Linked DNA regions of Homo sapiens: all the other regions are reported to be linked to region 1. Evidence: microRNA targets listed by miRTarBase, many of them from high-throughput screens and not tested one by one. Region 1 holds a microRNA gene; each other region holds the end of a gene's coding sequence. Distances are from middle to middle.
What was found. The annotated mature microRNA hsa-miR-6799-5p reads GGGGAGGUGUGCAGGGCUGG and lies in region 1 at 2,013-2,032, opposite strand. An mRNA with a match to its seed (bases 2 to 7 or 8) in the 3' UTR can be bound and repressed. Matches are read on the target gene's strand: a 7mer-m8 pairs with bases 2 to 8, a 7mer-A1 pairs with bases 2 to 7 and ends in A, and an 8mer does both.

Region 1 (7,121 bases):
AAAAGAAACAATGAGTGGATGCACGAGCTGGTGTGTTCTTCTCTTTGCCTGCGAATCCAGGCCTCTTCCTGACTGCCCAGGAGATGCGCATGTGTATTCTAAGTCTCAATTCTGGGATCGCCGCCCCCAGGAAGCCTTCGTGGACTCACAGGCTGTGTTAAGTGCCTCCTATGGGTGACCTATCCTACCTCCATTATAGCACGAGTCACCCCTTTTCTGACAATCTGTGACTGAGTCACCTCCCTGCCAGAAGGACAGGGAGCTCCTTAAGAGCAGAGCTTGGTTCTGACTCATCTGTGTCCCTGGTGTCACCCGACATGGAGCCTGGCATGCACAAGGCCTCAGGGGATGTTCCTGGGCAGGACAGGAGCAAAGGTGGGAGAGGGACGCCAGGCAGGAGTGAGAGGCTGCACAGGAAAGAGAGAGGCGGGAGGCAAAGCCAGAAGAGGGAAAGTGGGAGACAGAGAGAGAAGTGGGAGAGGGAGGAGGTCATGAGGGCGGCTGGCTCCCGGGGTGCTCGGCCCGCGAGGCCCTGTTCTGAGCACTCTATCCACAGCGCTCTGTGCCTCCAGGTGGGCACCGGTATTATCCCCACTGAACACAGGGGGCAGCTGAGGCCAGGGAGGTGAAGCCACTTGTCCAGGGCCACCCAGCCAGGAAGAGGCCGAGCCAGGATGAATCCAGCTCAGAGCCTGAGTTTGTAAACCTTGGGCTGGGCTGCCTCTCAGGGAGAGTGGGGGCCTGAGGGGTGTCAGAGGGCATAGGGATGCCAGGGCCACCTCCAGCAGCCAATATCTAGGCCACACCCACCCGGCTCAGGCGCGACACAGCCAGAGAGACGCACGTCTTGAAGTCATCTGGGTTCTTCTTGCAGAGACAGGTGATGAGGCTGACGGCGGCCGTGACCACACCCTGCAGGGGCAGAGGAGAGACAAGTCAGGCCCCTGGGGGAGGTGGTACCTGAGAGCAGAGGCTCAGGAGCGGGACAGGGTCGGGATGTGTGTGCAGTCGGGAAGATGGGGTTTAGGGGTGTGCACATGTGTCACTGTGCGTGCTTTAGGGGTGGGGTGAGGAGGCCACGGGGCCTCGGGCGCCATGGCCAGCACTGACCTGGGTGTGTGGGGTGTCCCTGGCAGGACCCCAGGCAGCTGGGTAAGGAGCAGTGAAGGGGCGAGACTCTAGAGGGTTGGGACTGTGGGGGTGGGACAGTCAAGGTTTCTGCGCTGGTGCGCAGGTGATGGGCGCTGTTGGGGGAATCTCCAGGTATTAGAAACAGAGTGGGATTTTCTAAGGGACTGGGTGGTTGGTGAGGGGTGTGGGGGTCACTGGACAGGATCCCTGGCCAGCCAGGGGAGTGTCAGAGATGGGGATGGGAGGGTTTCTGGACACTTGGGCAGGTAATGAGTACCGGGGACACTGGATCATGGTTTCTGGTGTCTGGTGAACGTCAGCGCCGAGGGGGAAGCTCCAGGAATCCAGGGGGATCAGGGCTGAGGTGGGAGCCCCAGGCATCCAGGGGGCGTGAGGGCTGAGGTGGGAGCCCTGGGTATCCGGGGGCGTGAGGGCTGAGGTGGGAGCCCTGGGTATCCGGGGGCGTGAGGGCTGAGGTGGGAGCCCTGGGCATCCAGGGGGCGTGAGGGCTGAGGTGGGAGCCCTGGGTATCCGGGGGCGTGAGGGCTGAGGTGGGAGCCCCGGGCATCCAGGGGGTGCGTGGGCTGAGGTGGGAGCCCTGGGTATCCGGGGGTGTGAGGGCTGAGGTGGGAGCCCCGGGCATCCAGGGGGGTCAGGGCTGAGGTGGGAGCCCTGGGTATCCGGGGGTGTGAGGGCTGGGGGCTCACCATGTGCTGGTCATTGAGCAGGTGTACCACACGCGCCGTCCACTCGCCCATGGGCACCAGGTCAGGCGAGGCCTTGTACAGTCGAAGGAGGCACAGGGCCGCACTCTGCTTGACACTGTCCATGCTGTCCCTGTGGGGACACCATGCAGGGCAGGGGAAGCAGAGTCAGTGACCCCAGCCCTGCACACCTCCCCTCCTCTCCTGTTCCTCCCAGGAAGGGTGTGCGAGGCCAGCGAGAGGGACAGACAGCCAGGCGGCCGCAGGATCCAGTCTGGCGCTGACCTCACGGCCCACCAGGACTCAGTGTCTTCATCTGCAAAATGATTGCATCTCAGTAACCTCACAGGGCTCAGGAACATGTCAAGCCTGGCTCTGCACCTTCATTCATTCACCAAGCACCTACTGGGTGCCCATGGGGTACCAGGCACTGCTGTTCACTCCATGGATAGAGTGGTGAATAAAGTGGTCCAAACACTTGTCCTCACAGGGCTTACATTTCAGACAGCACCACGAAAACACATACATCAAATACTGTCAGGGCTGGGCATGGTGGCTCACGCCTATAATCCCAGCACTTTGGGAGGTCGAGGTGGGAGGATCACTTGAGGCCATGAATTCAAGACCAGCCTGGGCGACAGTGAGACCCAGTCTCTTCAAAAATACAAAAATTAGCTGGGTGTGGTGGCGCAGGCTTGTAATCCCAGCTACTCGGGAGGGTGAGGTGGGAGGATTGCTCGAGACTGGGAGGTCGAGGCGGCAGTGCACCATGACTGTGCCACTGCACTCCCTCTAGCTTGGGCAACAGAGTTAGAGCTGTCTCTAAATAAATAAAAAAATTTAAAAATAAACAAAACAGAGTAACTTAAGGAGGAAAGACTGAAAATCCTCTGCAACAGAACATCCCAGGCAGAGGGAACAGCCTGTGCCAAGGCCATCAGGAAGGCGGAGCCCGTGTGTAGGAGGAGCAGCAAGGAGGCCTGCAGGCTGCGGCCTGAGCCATGGGGCAGGAGGGCTGCAGATAGGACAGGGAGGGAACAGAGAGCCAGACCCTGCAGGGCCTTGTTGGCTGAAGTGAGGACTTGGCTTTTTACCGATTGGGAGATGAAAGCCGCTGTGGGTGGTGAGCAGAGAATCAGCGTGATGTTAACACGACAGCAGGAACAGCTGCCCCCGGACCCCTTCGGCCTGTCCAGCACTCCCACAGGTCTCTGGGTGGATTCACACGTTTATCTTCTCTCCACAACAAACTGAGAAAATGGGTGTATTTTTGATCTGGCTTAGGTTTTTAAAGGGTCCCTCTGCCTGTTGTGAGGGAACAGACTTTGCAAGGCTCTTTTGAATCCAAGGGAATATATTCACAGGTTCTGGGGGTTAGGGTGGCTCACGCCTGTAATCCCAGCACTTTAGGAGGCTGAGGTGGGAGAATCACTTGAGCCCAAGAGTTGGAGACCAGCCTGGGCAACATGGTGAGACCCCCATCTCTACTAGAAATATGAGAATTAGCCAAGCGTGGTGGCGCATGCCTGTAGACCCACCTACTTGGCAGGCTGAGGTGGGAGGATCGCTTTAGCCTGGGAGGTGAAGGCTGCAGCCTGGGTGGCAGAGCAAGACCCTGTCTCCAAACAAAAAAAAGGGTGGGGGTACTTTGCAGATATGATAAAGTTAAGGATCATGAGATGGAGAGAGGATCCTGGGTGATCCAGGTGGACCCAATGTCATCACAGGGTCCTTATAAGGGAAAGATACAGTTCAGAGTCAGAGATGATGTGAGGATGGAACAGAGGTCAGGCAGGAGAGAAGATGCCACACTGCTGCCTTTGGGGATGGGGGAAGGGGCCACGAGCCAAGGAAAGCAGGTGGCCTCTAGGAGCTGGAGAAGGCAAGGACGCGGCCTCTCCTCTAGGGCCCCCGGAAGGGACGAGCCCTGCCCACGCCTTGATTTTAGCCCCGTGAGATGGATGTTGGACTTCCGACATCCAGAACCGGTGTTTGACACCGCTGTGCTGGTGGTAATTCATCACAGCAGTCACAGGAAACCAGGGTCAGCACTTGCCTGGCACAGAACCTGGCAGCCAGCGGGCAGCCCATCTCAGAGGGCTGACTCCAGGCCCCAACCATAACCCAGCTCCTAGCACAGCAAAGAGCATGGAGCATGATGTTGTTCTAGAAGAGGATCCCAGGGGAGCACCTTCTGGGGTCAGACACGCCTGCATGAGGTTGTGACTGTGGGGCACAGATGGGGGTAAGCCACTGACCCTCTCTGATGGGCTGTTTCCCCTTCAGGAAAATGAGGAGCCTTGTCGGCTTTGGGGAGAAAGAAATAAGATGGTGGGCCAGGCATGGTGGCTTACACCTGTAATCCCAACACTTTGGGAGGCTGAGGCAGGCGGATCACTTGAGGCCAGGTGTTTGAGACCGGCCTGGCCAGGCCAACGTGGTAAAACCCTGTCTCTACAAAAAAAAAAAAAAAAAAAGGCCAGGCGCAGTGGCTCACACCTATAATCCCAGCACTTTGGGATGCTGAGGCAGGTGGATCACCTGAGGTCAGGAGTTTGAGACCAGCCTGGCCAACATGGTGAAACCCCATCTCTACTAAAAATACAAAAATTAGCTGGGCATGGTGGCACGTGCCTGAAATCCTAGCTACTCGGGAGGCTGGGGCAGGAGAATCGCTTGAACCTGGGAGGCAGAGGTTGCAGTGAGCTGAGATCTCACCATTGCACTTCAACCTGGGAGACAGAGTGAGACTCCGTCTCAAAAAAAAACAGAAATGAGATTGTGTGGTGCATGGCCATAGCCTTGAGTAAGAGGAGGTGCTGGGAGCTGTCAAGACTGGCCCAGCCATGGCCTATCAGTAAAGGGTTTCCCAGAAAGCACCCAACAGACAGCAAAAGACACAGGGGAGAAGTCCTCAGAGGGGAGACCTGCACGAGTCAAAGGCCTGTGGCAGCATGTCTCACTGGATGTGCAGCCACCCAGCAGGTGGCTCCTGCCGTCATCCAGGCAGATACTCGCCCGACTGACGCCTGTTGCTACGGCCTCCTAAAGTGCTGGGAACCCTCGTGTGCTGCAGCTGGAGGCGGACACAGGGACAGGCCCTCTGGAGAGGCTCTGGGCTTCCTCTGTCTAGAAAGGCCACTGCTGTGTGTGCAGCAGACCAAGACCAGCAGTGCTGCCCCCAGACGCTCACCCTACAGAAACGTTCACTGCCCAGTGGTCATCAAGTTAGAACCAGAAACCAGCAAGAAGCCTGGCCACAGACGATGCTCCATTTGTGACGGCACTTTCCCACCTCCGTCACAGCGCACATCTCCCGAGCCCTGACTCCAGGCCACTTTCCCATCTCCGTCACGGCGCGCATCTCCCGAGCCCTGACTCTGGGCCACCTTCCCATCTCTGTCATGGCGCTCATCTCCCGAGCCACAGTGCATCTCCCGAGCCCTGACTCTGGGCCACTTTCCCATCGCTGCCACGGCGCACATCTCCTGAGCCACAGCGCATCTCCCGAGCCCTGACTCTGGGCCACTTTCCCATCGCTGCCACGGCACACATCTCCTGAGCCACAGCGCATCTCCCGAGTCCTGACTCTGGGCCAAACTCTGCTCTAAGTGTTCCCGCACAGCTCGCTCGCTCCCCACCACAGCCCTCTAAGGACGCGGATTCTATCATCTCCATTTACAGATAAGGATACCACACAAAGGAATAAGAGCTATTTATCAACTTGGTTAAGTGGAATAAGGGCTATGGCGCTACTTAGGAAAATGTTAAACTACACAATATCAAGCTGCATATTCAAGTATAAAAAATAAAACCACAAGTCAGGCGCGGTGGCTCACGCCTGTAATCTCAGCACTTTGGGAAGCTGAGGCCACGGAGGATCACTTGAGCTCAGGAGTTCAAGACTAGCCTGGGTAATATAGTGAGACCCTGTCTCTATAAAAAATTCAAATATTAGCCAGGCCTGGTGGCTTGTGCCTGTAGTCCCGGCTGCTGGAGTGGCTGACGTGGGAGGATCACCTGAGCCTGGGAGGTCAGGGCTGCAGTTAGCTATGATCATGCCACTGCACTCCAGCCTGGGCAGCAGAGTGAGACTCTATCTCGAGCAAATCACGGATATGCACCACAATGTGGATGAACCTGAAAAACATCTTGTTGAGTGGAAGAAGCCAGACACAGAAGGCCACCTACTGTGCGGTTCCATTTCTATGAAATGTCCACATTAGGCAAATCTGTGACAGAAAGCAGATTGGTGGCAGCCAGGGGCTGGGGGGAAGAGGGAATGGGGAGGGACTGCTAATGGGTACAGAGTCTTTTTTTGGAGCAATGAGTGTTCTGCAATTAGGTGGTAGTGGTTGTTGCACAGCATCATCAATATACTAGAAACCACTGAACTGAACACCTTCAAATGGTTAAAATGACCGGGCGCAGAGGCTCACGCCTGTAATCCTAGCACTTTGGGAGGCTGAGGCAGATGGATCAATAGAGGTCAAGAGTTTGAGACCAGTCTGGCCAACATGGCAAACCTCGTCTCTACTAAAAAAAAAAAAAAAATAGCCAGGTGTGGTGGCACACACCTGTAATCCCAGCTACTCAGGAGGCTGAGACAAGAGAATTGCTTGAACTTGGGAGGCAGAGGTTGCAGTGAGCCAAGATTGCACCACTGCACTCCAGCCTGGGTGACAGAGAGAGACTGCCTCAAAAAAAAAAAAACAAAAAACAAAAAAAACAAACAAAAAAAGCCTAGATGGGAGTGGTGGCTCACACCTGTAATCCCAACACTTTGGGAGGCTGAGGCAGGAGGATTGCTTGAGCTCTGGAGTTCAAGACCAGCCTGGAGCCTGGGCAACATAGCAAAACCCCATCTCTACAAAAAAAAAAAGAAATACAAAAATTAGCCAGGCATGGTGGTGCACGCCTATAATCACAGCTACTCAGGGGGCTGAGGTGGGAAGATCGCTTCAGCCCAGGAGTCGGAGGTTGCAGTGAGCCAAGACTGTGCCACTGCACTCCAGCCTGGGCAACAGGGCAAGACCCTGTCTCCAAAAAATAAAAAGTTAAATAAAAGTCTACCTACAAAATAAAGTTCCTTCGTGCCCCAGTCACTGCTGAGGCCAAGTTTCCAGTGTGGAGGGGGCAGCCTAGAGCCAGACAGCCCCACCCTGGCCCCTTGACCCTGGCAGAGCACCACCCCTCGGCATCCACTCCAGGGACAATGTCATCTGCACCCACACATGTTGGCCACGGTGGCCTCCCTCTCAGTCCTCAAAGTGCCCGGTTCTTCCC
Region 2 (7,121 bases), not on the chromosome of region 1:
AAAAATAGAAACGTGTTTCTACATATCAGATGCATTCCATCAAAGGCTGCTGAGAAAACCTGGAAGGGGGCAGGCATAAAGGCAGCCATGTCAGTCCAGTCTTTCCTCCCTTGGATCTGCTGACAAGAGCAAGGCTGGTTGGCTGGGCTCTGGGTCTGATCTAAGGTGCCTCTTCTCATGTTTTATCCTCAGGCTGGGATCATTACAGAGGCAAAGCTGAAGGATCTGACACCCCCTATGCCTGTGATGTTCATCAAGGCCATTCCTGCAGATAAGCAGGACTGCCGCAGTGTCTATTCCTGTCCTGTGTACAAGACTAGTCAGCGGGGACCCACCTACGTGTGGACTTTCAACCTGAAGACTAAGGAAAACCCATCCAAGTGGGTTCTGGCTGGAGTAGCCTTGCTTCTCCAGATTTAGCATCCTGCAGAGCCACCGAGAAAATAAAAAAGCTGGGCTTGGAGGCTGCCTAGAGGGACAGGTGGGTGAAGGGTCACCACAGACACTTAGAACGGTAAGAAACCATGAGCACTCACAATTCTGTAGAATTCCTCTAGGGAACTTGGAGAGGTGTGCCTAAGGTGAGGCTGAGCTGAAGGAATGTGGGCCCAGGTTTCTTAATAAAATGATTTACTCTTCAACTGTGTCTGGCCCAGGATTTGAGAGCTGCTGAATCATAAATGATCATGTAGAGACCAAGAGAAACAAACCACAAGGGCCCTGACCTTGTTACACAACACTATCCTAGGTGCTCTTCTTCCAGGCTACCCCACGCAGTCCTTGGACCAGTGGTATTGGCATCACCCATGAACCAGAATCTCCATTTTAACAATCTCTCTGGAAAATCTGTATGCACATTATAGTTTGAGAAACACTATCCTGGAGCAGGGGTCACCAACATTTTTCCATAAAGAGCCAGTTAGTGAATACTTTTAGTGATTTACAGGCCACAATGCCTCTGTTTGAACTTTGCAACTTTGCCGTGGTAGACCAACAGTAACCATAAATGATGAGTAAATGAAGGGGTGTGATTGCATTCTAACAAATTTTATTTACAAAAACAAGCAATGGGCCATATTTTGCTGATCCCTGCTGTAGAGGATAAGGGATGTGTATACTGATATTTATCCTTCATTAATTCATGCATCCACTCAATACATTTTAATCTGACACCTACTATTTGTTGTGGATACAATGTGAACAAGCAAACAGGAAGTATCTCCATCATCCTTTCGATCATTTAAGAGGAAGCCAAGAAGAAATCTTTACTGTAAAGCCTTTTTTTTTTTTTTGAGATGGAGTCTCGCTCTGTCACCCAGGGTGGAGTGCACTGGGGCAATCTCTGCTCACTGCAACCTCTACCTCCTGGGTTCAAGCGATTCTCCTGCCTCAGCCTCCCAACTAGCTGGGATTACAGGCGCCTGCCAACATGCCTGGCTAATTTTTATATTTTTGGTAGAGACAGGGTTCCACCATGTTGGTCAGGCTGATCTTGAACTCCTGACCTCAGGTGATGTGCCTGCCTCAGCCTCCCAAAGTGCTGGGATTACAGGCGTGAGCCACCGCGCCTGGCCATTCTAAAGCTTTTTAATCTAAAAGTTTTCTAGATTTACCTCCGTGGAACAAATTTTCACTGGAAGTCCAATGGGTTTAACAGTTTTGATGAGTTTTAAAAAGCTCTATGAGGCAGCTTGTTTGGTAAGAAAAGTATGGGAGGACCCAGTATTCCTTCTGTGATTATTCCCTCCTAACCTTGCAGAAACTTAATTTTGTGATTACTGTTTTGAACAGTGGTTCTTAAACTTGAACAGGCATCAGAATCCCCTGGAGGGCTTGTTAAAACAAAGATTACTGGGACCCGCCCTTCAATATTTCTGATTCAGTAAGTTTAAACAAATTGCCAATGCTGCTGGTCTGGAGGCCAGTTTGAGAACTCGTGATTTAAAACCTCAAATCCCATCATCCTATAAATCTCTGCTATATAGAATATGGAATCTGATGCTAATTCCTCTATGATTTTCCTGCTTTCTTCCTTGCAGTTCCTGCACCCCCTAAGTGGGGCCTTCTCATCTTCATGATACAAGGGAGTTAATAAATTTTACTGCTGGAAGCCAGGACCTCCAGCTTGGGTGTTGTCCCTCCTCTCCCATCAACTAGTAATGCACTTGCAGTTTCCTGACTATAGGTTAATCTGTTTTCAGGGAGATAACTCTGTCCACATTAGCATCATCCTTCCTGAGCCTCACCCATAGTAGTATAATAACATCAGGCAGGCCGGGCACAGCGGCTCATGCCTGTAATCCCAGCAATTTGGGAGGCTGAGGCAGGCGGATGACAAGGTCAGGAGATCAAGACCATCCTGGCCAACATGGTGAAACCCCGTCTCTACTAATACAAAAATTAGCTGAGTTTGGTGGTGCGTGCCTGTAATCCCAGCTACTCGGGAGGCTGAGGCAGGAGAATTGCTTGAACCAGGGAGTCGGAGGTTGCAGTGAGCCGAAATCACGCCACTGCACCACTGCATTCCAGCCTGGCGACAAAGCAAGACTCTGTCTCACCAAAAAAAAAAAAAAAAAAAAAAAATCAGGCCTAAAGAAGGAGGTGGAAGATGGTGGGAGGTGGAAGATGGTGGGAGGGGGAAGTCTCACTGTCAGGCCTCTGAGCCCAAGCCAAGCCATCGCATCTCCTGTGACTTGCACCTATACGCCCAGATGGCCTGAAGTAACTGAAGAATCACAAAAGAAGTGAAAAGGCCCTGCCCCGCCTTAACTGATGACATTCCACCATTGTGATTTGTTCCTGCCCCAACTTAACTGAATGATTAACCCTGGGAATTTCCTTCTCCTGGCTCAGAAGCTCCCCCACTGAGCACCTTGTGACCCCCGCCCCTGCCCACCAGAGAACAACCCCCTTTGACTGTAATTTTCCATTACCTTCCCAAATCCTATAAAACGGCCCCACCCCTATCTCCCTTTGCTGACTCTCTTTTCGGACTCAGCCCACCTGCACCCAGGTGAAATAAACAACCATGTTGCTCACACAAAGCCTGTTTGGTGGTCTCTTCACACGGACGCACATGAAATTTGGTGCCGTGACTCGGATCGGGGGACCTCCCTTGGGAGATCAATCCTCCGTCCTCCTGCTCTTTGCTCCATGAGAAAGATCCACCTACGACCTCAGGTCCTCAGACTGATCAGCCCAAGAAACATCTCACCAATCTCAAATCCGGTAAGTGGCCTCTTTTTACTCTCTTCTCCAACCTCCCTCACTATCCCTCAACCTCTTTCTCCTTTCAATCTTGGCGCCACACTTCAATCTCTCCCTTCTCTTAATTTCAATTCCTTTCATTTTCTGGTAGAGACAAAGGAGACACGTTTTATCCGTGGACCCAAAACTCCGGCGCCGGTCACGGACTGGGAAGGCAGCCTTCCCTTGGTGTTTAATCATTGCAGGGACACCTCTCTGATTATACACTCACATTTCAAGGGTGTCAGACCACACAGGGACGCCTGCCTTGGTCCTTCACCCTTAGTGGCAAGTCCCGCTTTTCTGGGGAAGGGTCAAGTACCCCAACCCCTTCTCTTGTCTCTACCCCTTCTCTGCTTTTCTGGGGCAGGGGCAAGTACCCCTCAACCCCTTCTCCTTCACCCTTAGCGGCAAGTCCCGCTTTCCTAGGGGGCAAGAACCCCCCAATCCCTTATTTCCACACCCCAACCTCTTATCTCTGCGCCCCAGTCCCTTATTTCCACGCCCCAACCTCTTGTCTCTGCGCCCCAATCCCTTATCTCTGCGCCCCAATCCCTTATTTCCACACCCCAACCTCTTATCTCTGCGCCCCAGTCCCTTATTTCCACGCCCCAACCTCTTATCTCTGCGTCCCAATCCCTTATTTCCACGCCCCAACCTCTTATCTCTGCGCCCCAATCCCTTATCTCTGCGCCCCAATGCCTTATTTCCGCGCCCCGACCCCCCCCTCCCGCTTTTCTGGAAGGTAAGAACCCCCGAACCCCTTCCCTCCGTGTCTCTACGCTCTCTTTTCTCTGGGCTTGCCTCCTTCACTATGGGCTTGCCTCCTTCACTATGGGCAAGCTTCCACCTTCCATTCCTCCTTCTTCTCCCTTAGCCTGTATTCTTAAGAACTTAAAACCTCTTCAACTCTCACCTGACCTAAAATCTAGGCGTCTTATTTTCTTCTGCAATGCCGCTTGACCCCAATACAAACTCCACAGTAGTTCCAAATAGCCGGAAAACGGCACTTTCAATTTTTCCATCCTACAAGATCTAACTAATTCTTGTCGTAAAATGGGCAAATGGTCTGAGATGCCTGACGTCCAGGCATTCTTTTACACATCAGTCCATTCCTAGTCTCTGTGCCCAATGCAACTCGTCCCAAATCTCCCGCCTGTCCCCTCAGTCCCAACCCCAAGCGTCGCTGAGTCTTTCTAATCTTCCTTTTCTACAGACCCATCTGACCTCTCCCCTCCTCGCCTGGCCAAGCTAGGTCCCAATTCTTCCTCAGCCTCCACTCCTCCACCCTATAATCCTTTTATCGCCTCCCCTCCTCACACCTGCTCCGGCTTACAGTTTCATTCCGTGACTAGCCCTCCCCCACCTGCCCAGCAATTTACTCTTAAAAAGGTGGCTGGAGCTAAAGACATAGTCAAGGTTAATGCTCCTTTTTCTTTATCCCAGATCAGATAGCGTTTAGGCTCTTTTTCACCAAATATAAAAACCCAGTTCATGGCTCGTTTGGCAGCAACCCTGAGGCGCTTCACAGCCCCAGACCCTAAAAGGTCAAAAGGCCGTCTTATTCTCAATATACATTCTATTACCCAATCTGCTCCCGACATTAACTCCAAAAATTGGAATCTGGCCCTCAAACCCCACAGCAGGACTTAATTAACCTCACCTTCAAGGTGTACAATAACAGAAAAAAGTTGCAATTCCTTGCCTCCACTGTGAGACAAACCCCAGCCACATCTCCAGCACACAAGAACTTCCAAACGCCTGAACTGCAGCAGCCAGGCGTTCCTCCAGAACCTCCTCCCCCAGGAGCTTACTACAAGTGCCAGAAATCTGGCCACCAGGCCAAGGAATGCCTGCAGCCCAGGATTCCTCCTAAGCCGTGTCCCATCTGTACGGGACCCCACTGGAAATCGGACTGTTCAACTCACCTGGCAGACACTCCCAGAGCCCCTGGAACTCTGACCCAGGGCTCTCTGACTGACTCCTTCTTGGCTTACCGGCTGAAAACTGACGCTGCCTGATCGCCTCGGAAGCCCCGTAGACCATCACGGACGCCGAGCTTTAGGTAACTCTCACAGTGGAAGGTAAGTCCGTCCCCTTCTTAATCAATATGGAGGCTACCCACTCCACATTACCTTCTTTTCAAGGGCCTGTTTCCCTTGCCTCCATAACTGTTGTGGGTATTGACAGCCAGGTTTCTAAACTTCTTAAAACTCCCCAACTCTGGTGCCAACTTAGACAACACTCTTTTATGCACTCTTTTTTAGTTATCTCCACCTGCCCAGTTCCCTTATTAGGCCGAGATATTTTAACCAAATGATCTGCTTCCCTGACTATTCCTGGACTACAGCCACATCTCATTGCTGCCCTTCTTCCCAATCCAAAGCCTCCTTTGCGTCCTCCTCTTGTATCCCCCACCTTAACCCACAAGTATAAGATACCTCTACTCCCTCCTTGGTGACCGATCATGCACCCCTTACCATCTCATTAAAACCTAATCACCCTTACCCCGCTCAATGCCAATATCCCATCCCACAGCATGCTTTGAAAGGATTAAAGCCTGTTATCACTCGCCTGCTACAGCATGGCCTTTTAAAGCCTATAAACTCTCCTTACAATTCCCCCATTTTACCTGTCCTAAAACCAGACAAGCCTTACAAGTTAGTTCAGGATCTATGCCTTATCAACCAAATTGTTTTGCCTATCCACCCTATGATGCCAAACCCATATACTCTCCTATCCTCAATACCTCCCTCCACAATCCATTATTCTGTTCTGGATCTCAAACGTGCTTTCTTTACTACTCCTTTGTACCTGTCATCCCAGCCTCTCTTCGCTTTCACTTGGACTGACCCTGACACTCATCAGGTTCAGCAAATTACCTGGGCTGTACTGCCGCAAGGCTTCACAGACAGCCCCCATTACTTCAGTCAAGCCCAAATTTCATCCTCATCTGTTACCTATCTCGGCATAATTCTCGTAAAAACACACGAGCTCTCCCTGCTGATCGTGTCTGATTAATCTCCCAAACCTCAATCCCTTACAAAACAACAAACTCCTTTCCTTCCTAGGCATGGTTAATGCAGTCAGAATTCTTACACAAGAGCCAGGACCGCACCCTGTAGCCTTTCTGTCCAAACAACTTGACCTTACTGTTTTAGCCTAGCCCTCATGTCTGCGTGCAGCGGCTGCCGCTGCTTTAATACTTTTAGAGGCCTTTCCTACAAGGTCTGAGAAGGCCACCGTAGTCATTTCTTCCCTTCTGTCAGACATAATTCCTCAGTTTAGCCTTCCCACCTCTATACAGTCTGATAACAGACCAGCCTTTATTAGTCAAATCAGCCAAGCATTTTTTCAGGCTCTTAGTATTCAGTGACAGACTAATGGTCTATTAAAAACACACCTCACCAAGCTCAGCCACCAACTTAAAAAGGACTGGACAATACTTTTACCACTTTCCCTTCTCAGAAGTCAGACCTGTCCTCAGAATGCTACAAGGTACAGCCCATTTAAGCTCCTGTATAGACGCTCCTTTTTATTAGGCCCCAGTCTCATTCCAGACACCAGACCAACTTCGACTATGCCCCCAAATAACTTGTCATCCCTACTATCTTCCGTCTAGTCATACTCCTATTCACCATTCTCAACTACTCATACATGCCCTGCTCTTGTTTACACTGCCGGTTTACACTGTTTCTCCAAGCCATCACAGCTGATATCTCCTCGTCCTATCCCCAAACTGCCACTCTTAACTCTTGAATAAATAATCTTTGCTGGCAGGACTATGCTGAACCTCCATAGGCACTCTCTAATTAGATGTCCTAGGTCCTCCCAATTCTTAGTCCTTTTATACCTGTTTTTCTCCTTCTCTTATT
Region 3 (7,121 bases), 40 Mb from region 1:
AGGACAGAAACGCTTTGATTGTGACCAGTGTGGGAAAGTCTTTGTTTCTTTCTCATCTCTTTTTGCTCATTTGAGAACTCACACTGGTGAGAAGCCCTTTAAGTGTTACAAATGTGGGAAACCATTTACCTCTTCTGCCTGTCTTCGTATTCACATGCGAACTCACACAGAAGAGAGACTCTATCAATGTAAGAAATGTGGTAAAGCTTTCACTAAGTGCTCATATCTTACCAAACATTTACGAACACACGCTGGAGAGAAACCCTATGAATGTATGAAATGTGGGAAAGCCTTCACTGAGCGCTCATACCTTACTAAACATTTACGAAGACACAGTGGAGAGAAGCCATATGAATGTAAGAAATGTGGAAAAGCCTTCACAGAACGCTCAGATCTTACTAAACATTTACGAAGACACACTGGAGATAAGCCCTATGAATATAAGGACTGTGGGAAAGCCTTTGTTGTCTCCTCCAGTCTAGTTGATCATTTAAGAACTCACACTGGATATAAACCCTATAAATGTAATGCATGTGAAAAAGCTTACAGTAGGTCTTGTGTACTAACTCAACACTTAAAAACTCATGCAGCAGAGAAGACCTCTGAATGTAACGCATGTGGAAATTCCTTTCGAAATTCCATGTGCTTTCATGATCGCTTAAAAACTCTCACCAAAATAAAACCCTATAAATGTAAGGACTGTGGGAAAGCCTTCACTTGTCATTCAGATCTTACTAATCATGTGCGAATTCACACTGGAGAGAAGCCCTATAAATGTAAGGAATGTGGGAAGGCCTTCCGTACATCCTCAGGACGTATTCAACATTTAAGAACTCATATGGGAGAGAAACCCTTTGAATGTGACCAGTGTGGGAAAGCCTTTGCTTCTTTCTCAGCTCGTATTGCACATTTGAAAACACACTAGAGAGAAGCCCTGTGGATGTGAAGAATGTGGAAAAACCTTTGCTGTTTCCTCAAGCCTAACTGAACATGTAAAAATTCACAGGAGAAAGTAACACTATCAATGTAAGGAATGTGAGAAAGCCTGAACAGTTGAATCTTTCTAGATATGTACAAACTCACACTGTAGAGAAACCCTGTAAATGTAAGGGATGTAGGAAAACACTAGTTCTTCTCTCTCTCTTTTTTTTTTTTTGATGAGTCTCACTCTGTCACCTAGGCTGGAGTGCAGTGGCATGATCTTGGCTCACTGCAACCTCTGCCTCCCAAGTTCAAGCAATTCTCCTGCTTTAGTCTCCTGAGTAGCTGGGATTACAGGCATGCACCACCACACCTGGCTAATTTTTTATATTTTTGGTAGAGACAGAATTTCACCATGTTGGCCAAGCTAGTCTCAAACTCCTGACCTCATGTGATCATGTGCTTCCACCTCCCAAAATGCTGGGATTACAGGTGTGTGCCACTGCACCTGGCATTCTTCTCATCTTACTGAACGTGTAGAAACACCATGGAGAGAAACCATGTTTTTTTGTTTGTTTGTTTTTGAGATGAAGTCCCACTCTGTAGCCCAGGCTGGAGTGCAGTAGCATGATCTCGGCTCACTGCAACCTCCGCCTCCTGGGTTCAAGCGATTCTCCTGCCTCAGCCTCCCGAGTAGCTGGGATTATAGGCACACACCACTGCACCTGGCTGATTTTTTGTATTTTTAGTAGAGACGGGGTTTCAACATTTTGGCCAAGCTGGTCTTGAAGTCCTGACCTCAGGTAATCTGCCCGCCTTGGCCTCCCAAAGTGGTAGAATTACAGGTGTGAGCCATCGCGCCTGGCCAAGAAACCCATTTTATGTAAGGAATGAGGAAAATCCTTTTGGAAGTCCATATGCCTTAATAGTCACATTGTAATTCACACTGGTGAGAAAACAATGTAAGCACTGTGTCAAAGTGCTCATTTGTCCCTGTTCACTTCAAAGATAGGAAAGAACTTACACTCTGATGATGCTCCATAAAGTTAAAGGCATGTGGGAGAACCGTTGGAATCTGCTGACAATACACTGTGTAAGAGTTCATCCTGAAGCTGTACAATGTTAGAAACATAGAGAGCTGGCCAGGCGCAGTGGCTCATGCCTATAATCTCAGCACTTTGGAAGGCTGAGGCAGGTGGATCACGAGGTCAAGAGATCGAGACTATCCAGGCCATCCAGGCCAACATGGTGAAACCCTGTCTCTACTAAAAATACAAAAATTAGCTGGGCATGGTGGTACACCCCTGTAATCCCAGCTACTCAAGAGCCTGAGGCAGGAGAGTCGCTTCAACCAGGGAGGCAGAGGTTACAGTTAGCCAAGATCATGCCACTGCACTCCAGCCTGGCGACTGAGCGAGACTCCATCTCAAAAAAAAAAAAAAAAAAAATCAATAGCTTTCACTGTTTCCTTGGGTTCTTGGAATGGAGATAAACCCTTTTTATGTAAGATGTTTGATGTAAGATATGTTCAGAAGTTTTATTCTTGCCAAATACTTTGGTGTTTACCTGTAATTTTATAGTGGAGAAAAACTTCATGAAGGTAATAAATGTTGGAAAGTAATTTTTTATATTCTTCGTCCTTTAGTGAATATGAGGGGCATTCACACTTATGAGAAACTGGGCATGTATGGAATATCAGGATTGCTTCTCTGAAACCTGTCAAAGCCTGGCTTTCTGGGTGGTTCTATAGAACTATTTTGGAAGTTTCTTACACCCCGCTGCTCATTCCTGGCATGGTATGTCTTTCTCCTATAGCAACACCACTCTAGTTGCTATACATCCTCTGGGTTACAACTGACCTAAAGTGGGCCTTCAGGATTCAGACAATCCTGTTTTAACAGTGTAGATTCTCTTTTTGGTTTGTCATATTTTTAGACATGGTCCACCTGTAGTGGCTCACACTGGCCAAGGTAAAAGTTATAATACAGCTTTAAAATGTAAAAATACTCTTGTTCCTCTTTTCAAACCTGATCTTTTCAGATAAATGGTCAGGGTTGAAGAAGGGTCTGAGTGGAGAAAGGGTGCACTAACAGATAGTAACTTAAGATACCGTGATTTCATGGCCGTGGAGGGACACCCATAACCCTTCACCTGGAGAGGTGGGAACTCTTGTACTATCAGGCAGTGCAGAGAGGTGGTGGGAACCACGAATGTTGTCTTTGATGCCACTGTTTGGCAAAGCAGTCATATATGCCTGACTCAGTTAACTGCTATGATTGGCAGTATGACCTATTTCTGGGGTTTCATTTTGCCCATGTGCTATGAAAACAGAAAAACTCCTGTGAACATGGATGATCATGATATTCTGCTGTGCTTGACACCATCACTAGCACTTCCTGAACATGGCCCTGGAATACACACACACGCACAAGCTGCATAACCAGGTTCCAGTCTGAGTGGTACAAATTTAAATATTTCTGTTATATCATGTACAGCAATTAAGGCTGTTGTTTCTTGGTGATTCTTTCTGTGGTTCTTAATCCAGCCAGTGTAATGGTAATCCAAAGCTTCAGGTAAGTTTACCAATCCTGAATCAGCTGGGTGTAATAGCTTATGCCTGTAATCCCAGCACTTCGGGAGGCCAAGTCAGGCGGATCACTTGGGCTCAGGAGTTCAAGACCAGCCCGGGCAACATGGCAAAACCCTATCTCTACAAAAAATGTAAAGATTAGCCTGGTGTGATGGCACGTGCCTGTAGTCCAACCTACTCAGGAGGCTGAGATAGGTGTCTCACTGACCCCAGGGAGGTCATGGCTGCAGTGAGCTCAGATCGTGCCATTGGACTCCAACCTGGGTGACAGAGGCCTTGTCTCAAAAACAAAACAAAACCAAAAAAACTGAATTGAGGTCCATGCATTTTCATGTTACATGTTTTCTTATGGAGAGGAAAGGGTTTCAGAGTGGTTCTCTTGTGGTATGAGTGTGATTATTTTAACCCATCTTTGTTGCGTTTAACTGTTACCAGTGACACAAAAGACGCAGATTAGTCTTAATTGCCTTGTGTGACTTCTGTCACCTCACAGACTGTCCTTAGATGCCATCCTGATTGTCTCAAATAAAACCTATAGGTTATTCCTGAAACTTTTTCACAGTTGTTGGAGTATGAGCACTTGTGGGTCACAGGTGAGGTCAATACTGTAGGTTGGCCTCATCCTGGTGCTTGGACTAATAGTGATGTATCACTAAGAAATGATACCCTAGTCTCACAGCCTAGAAATTGCCTAGCTTCAGAAGCTGATTTCCTTTTTTATTTTTTTTAGAAGCTGATTTCTGATTGTTTATATAAAATCACTTGATCTTTGTATACTGAATTTTACTAGAAGCCTTGTTCAACATTCTTTAACATCCTAGTTTTATGTATTTTGGGTTTTCCACATTTCATATTATCTGTAACTGACTTAACTTGTAACCTTCAGTCATTTATGTCTTGTCTAGGCAGAAAATACTAGAATAATAACTAGAAGTAGTAAAACAAGCATACTTTTATTTCTAATCCTAATGGCAGATGTTTTCCATCATTACTAATCACTGTATTGGTTGCTGTAGATTTTTAAAAGGTCAAGGTTTTTTTCTACTTTTCATTGCTTAGGGAATCTTTCCCATGAATGGCTTAAGAATTTATTGAATGCTTTTCCCTGATTCCTCTTTGATGATCTTGCCTTACTCAGAAAATTCAGGTACCTAGGACTGACTGTACTTGCCCTTGATAGATACCTAATATTTAAATGTGTAAGTAAATAAAAGTTTTTTTAAAATGTGGAAAGATAACTGATTGACATTCCAATGTTATATTATCTTTGTAATTCCAGAAAAATGCAGTTTGAGTATAATGGATTAACTTTTTTTTTTGCTAGAATATTTTATATACCTATAGTGTAAAGATTTTTTAAAAATATTATTAACATTGGCATGTAATATTTGCCAAGACCAGGTCGGTCATGGAGACCACAATCCAGCAGCACTAGAGGAATAAAGACATAGACAGAAATAGAGTGCAAAGTGGGATCAGGGGGCTAACAGCCTTCAGAGCTGAGAGCCTCGAACAGAGTTTGACCCACCTATTTATTGACAGCCTGTGATAAACATCGTTTCTGTAGTTTGTAGATTAACTGAAAGTATTCTTTAAGGAGAACAAAGGGACAGGCTCTGGCTTGTTATCTGCAGCAGGAGCATGTCATTAAGGCACAGATTGCTTATGCCATTGTTTGTGGTTTAGGAACACCTTGAGCAGTTTTCCGCCCTGGGTGGGCCAGGTGTTCCTTGCCCTCATTCTGGTGAACCAGCAACCTCCAGTGTGTGCATCATAACCATCACGAGCATGTCACAGTGCTGCAGAGATCTTGTTTATGACTTTTCTTATGGCTTGTTTATGGCCAGGCTTGGGGCCTATTCCCAGCATGTCCCCCTTTTTGTTTTACCAGGGCAATAAAAGCAAAGGCGGCTTTATCACAGTGAGCTACTTCTTGCAGGAGTCAGGATCCGCATCTGCAGACTACACAAAGACAAACAACACAGATTAATAGCACAACCATCATAGAAATCACAGAGCCTCCAAGTGTTTTTATGCATTTCATAGGATTTATGGCTGCCAATCCATCTGCAACTCCTTCAAGCACTCCAGTTCCTGGCATTAAGGTCAGGTGTGCCTGGGATGCTTGAAATATTTGTTCTCTTAATTTTGCAACATCCGAAGACAAGTTTGTAGAGTGTCCTTCCAGATACTTTTTTTTATTCTTTCCCATTCATGGTCTAATTCATTATAAGGGTGAGGAGTGATACAAAAGTCAGAAGTATTCCAGTCGCATTTCAGCTGCATTCCATATTCCAAACTAGCTACTTGATCTCCCACCCACATTACAGTTGGTTGGAGATCATTGATTTGATTAACTATCTTTTGGTCTATTTTAGTTTGAGAGTTCCACAGCAGAGTAGAATTCTTTTGCCATTATTTACAAAATCTGCTGTCTGCACTGATGAATGTAGTGCCACTCCAGCTACTGCAGCAGTAGCTGTGACAGCAATCAGTCCCATAATAATCAAGATTAAAGTAGCAATGAAACACTGAGAACTTCTTAGAATTTTCTGAAGAATTTAGTAATAATATGTACAGAGGGAGAGGGTTCCCAAGGATGGGAAAGCTTCGCCGGTAACCAACTCCTTCTTGAGCTCTCACTGCTAGTATAGAATGATTAGTATTAAACAAGGAAGAGTTCACACAAGAGGACAATCTACCTTCCTGGCAAGTTACATGATAATTAGGGGTGTCAAACTTTAGATCGCCCATTACCAACAAAAGGAGGGTGAACACAACTTTGTATCCAAATTGTATTATTTTCAACAAGTTCTAAAATGTAATTAGGATTATATTGTGATGGCATAGTATATTTTCCTTCCCAAATCTTGATCTTATCAAAAGCTATTAATAGTTTCCACAAATCCTTATGTTTAGCTCCTACAGCGGGCCATATCATTTGAGGTTGAGGTGCCACTATACCGTCATGTTTCCAGATAATAGGAACTCTTGCGGTACTTCTTATCATTTTTACCATCTGATCGTTTTATTCAGACCAGCTGAACATAGTGTGGCCATCACATGCAGACAGAGGTGCAATTCATGCTAAACATCCCCTTAGGGGACCAATCAATAATGATTCCATAGGAATCATGCAGCACCTCTGCCTGTCCTGCAATGCAATCTTCCCAAATGAGTACATTCATTTTTTCTGACCGGGTCCAATCCTGTTTACAAATAGGTTTTTGAGGGCGGTATGCCTCAATTAGAGGAGCAGATTCATTATGGTAAATACTGACACCAGAAAGCATGTGTAACTGCCATAGAGTGATTACGTCCAGGCATTATTGCCAGCCAAGATTGATACTGAGGGGGTGGGCAACTAGTGGCCTTTCCCAAACAGATGGGCGGATGCTTAAATCCTAAAGAAATACTCATAACAGTTCCTTCCCTGTGTGGGTGAGATGGGCCTCTATCATCTGTAGGACCAGGCATCCAAGAGCTATTATTAGTGTATACCTCCACTGGGGGGTCCAGCCAAGTTACAGGCCATAGAAGTGGTGGAAAAGGTAAATATGCCCAATGAGTATAATTGCTCTTTTTGTCAGTCCTTGCTGAAGGAATACTC

Region 2: miRTarBase lists DNAH9 as a target of hsa-miR-6799-5p. The part of its 3' UTR that is shown has no 7-base or 8-base seed match.
Region 3: the mRNA of ZNF560 is a reported target of hsa-miR-6799-5p. The part of its 3' UTR that is shown has no 7-base or 8-base seed match.

What each region holds. Positions count from the first base shown.
Region 1 is chr19:49,786,782-49,793,902 of GRCh38, reverse strand. It overlaps MIR6799 (microRNA 6799), which reads right to left and starts at 2,037; the gene lies at 1,969-2,037. It overlaps AP2A1 (adaptor related protein complex 2 subunit alpha 1), which reads right to left. Exons shown (of 23, transcript NM_130787.3): 5 at 1,839-1,968; 6 at 811-912.
Region 2 is chr17:11,969,108-11,976,228 of GRCh38, forward strand. DNAH9 (dynein axonemal heavy chain 9) reads left to right here. Exons shown (of 69, transcript NM_001372.4): 69 at 193-641. The coding sequence ends at 420. Among named protein-coding and RNA genes, the nearest start is that of ZNF18, 25 kb to the right of the region's middle.
Region 3 is chr19:9,460,378-9,467,498 of GRCh38, reverse strand. ZNF560 (zinc finger protein 560) reads left to right here. Exons shown (of 10, transcript NM_152476.3): 10 at 1-1,144. The coding sequence ends at 925. LOC105372269 (a long non-coding RNA gene) reads right to left here. Exons shown (of 3, transcript XR_007067133.1): 3 at 4,970-5,473. Among named protein-coding and RNA genes, the nearest start is that of ZNF266, 28 kb to the right of the region's middle.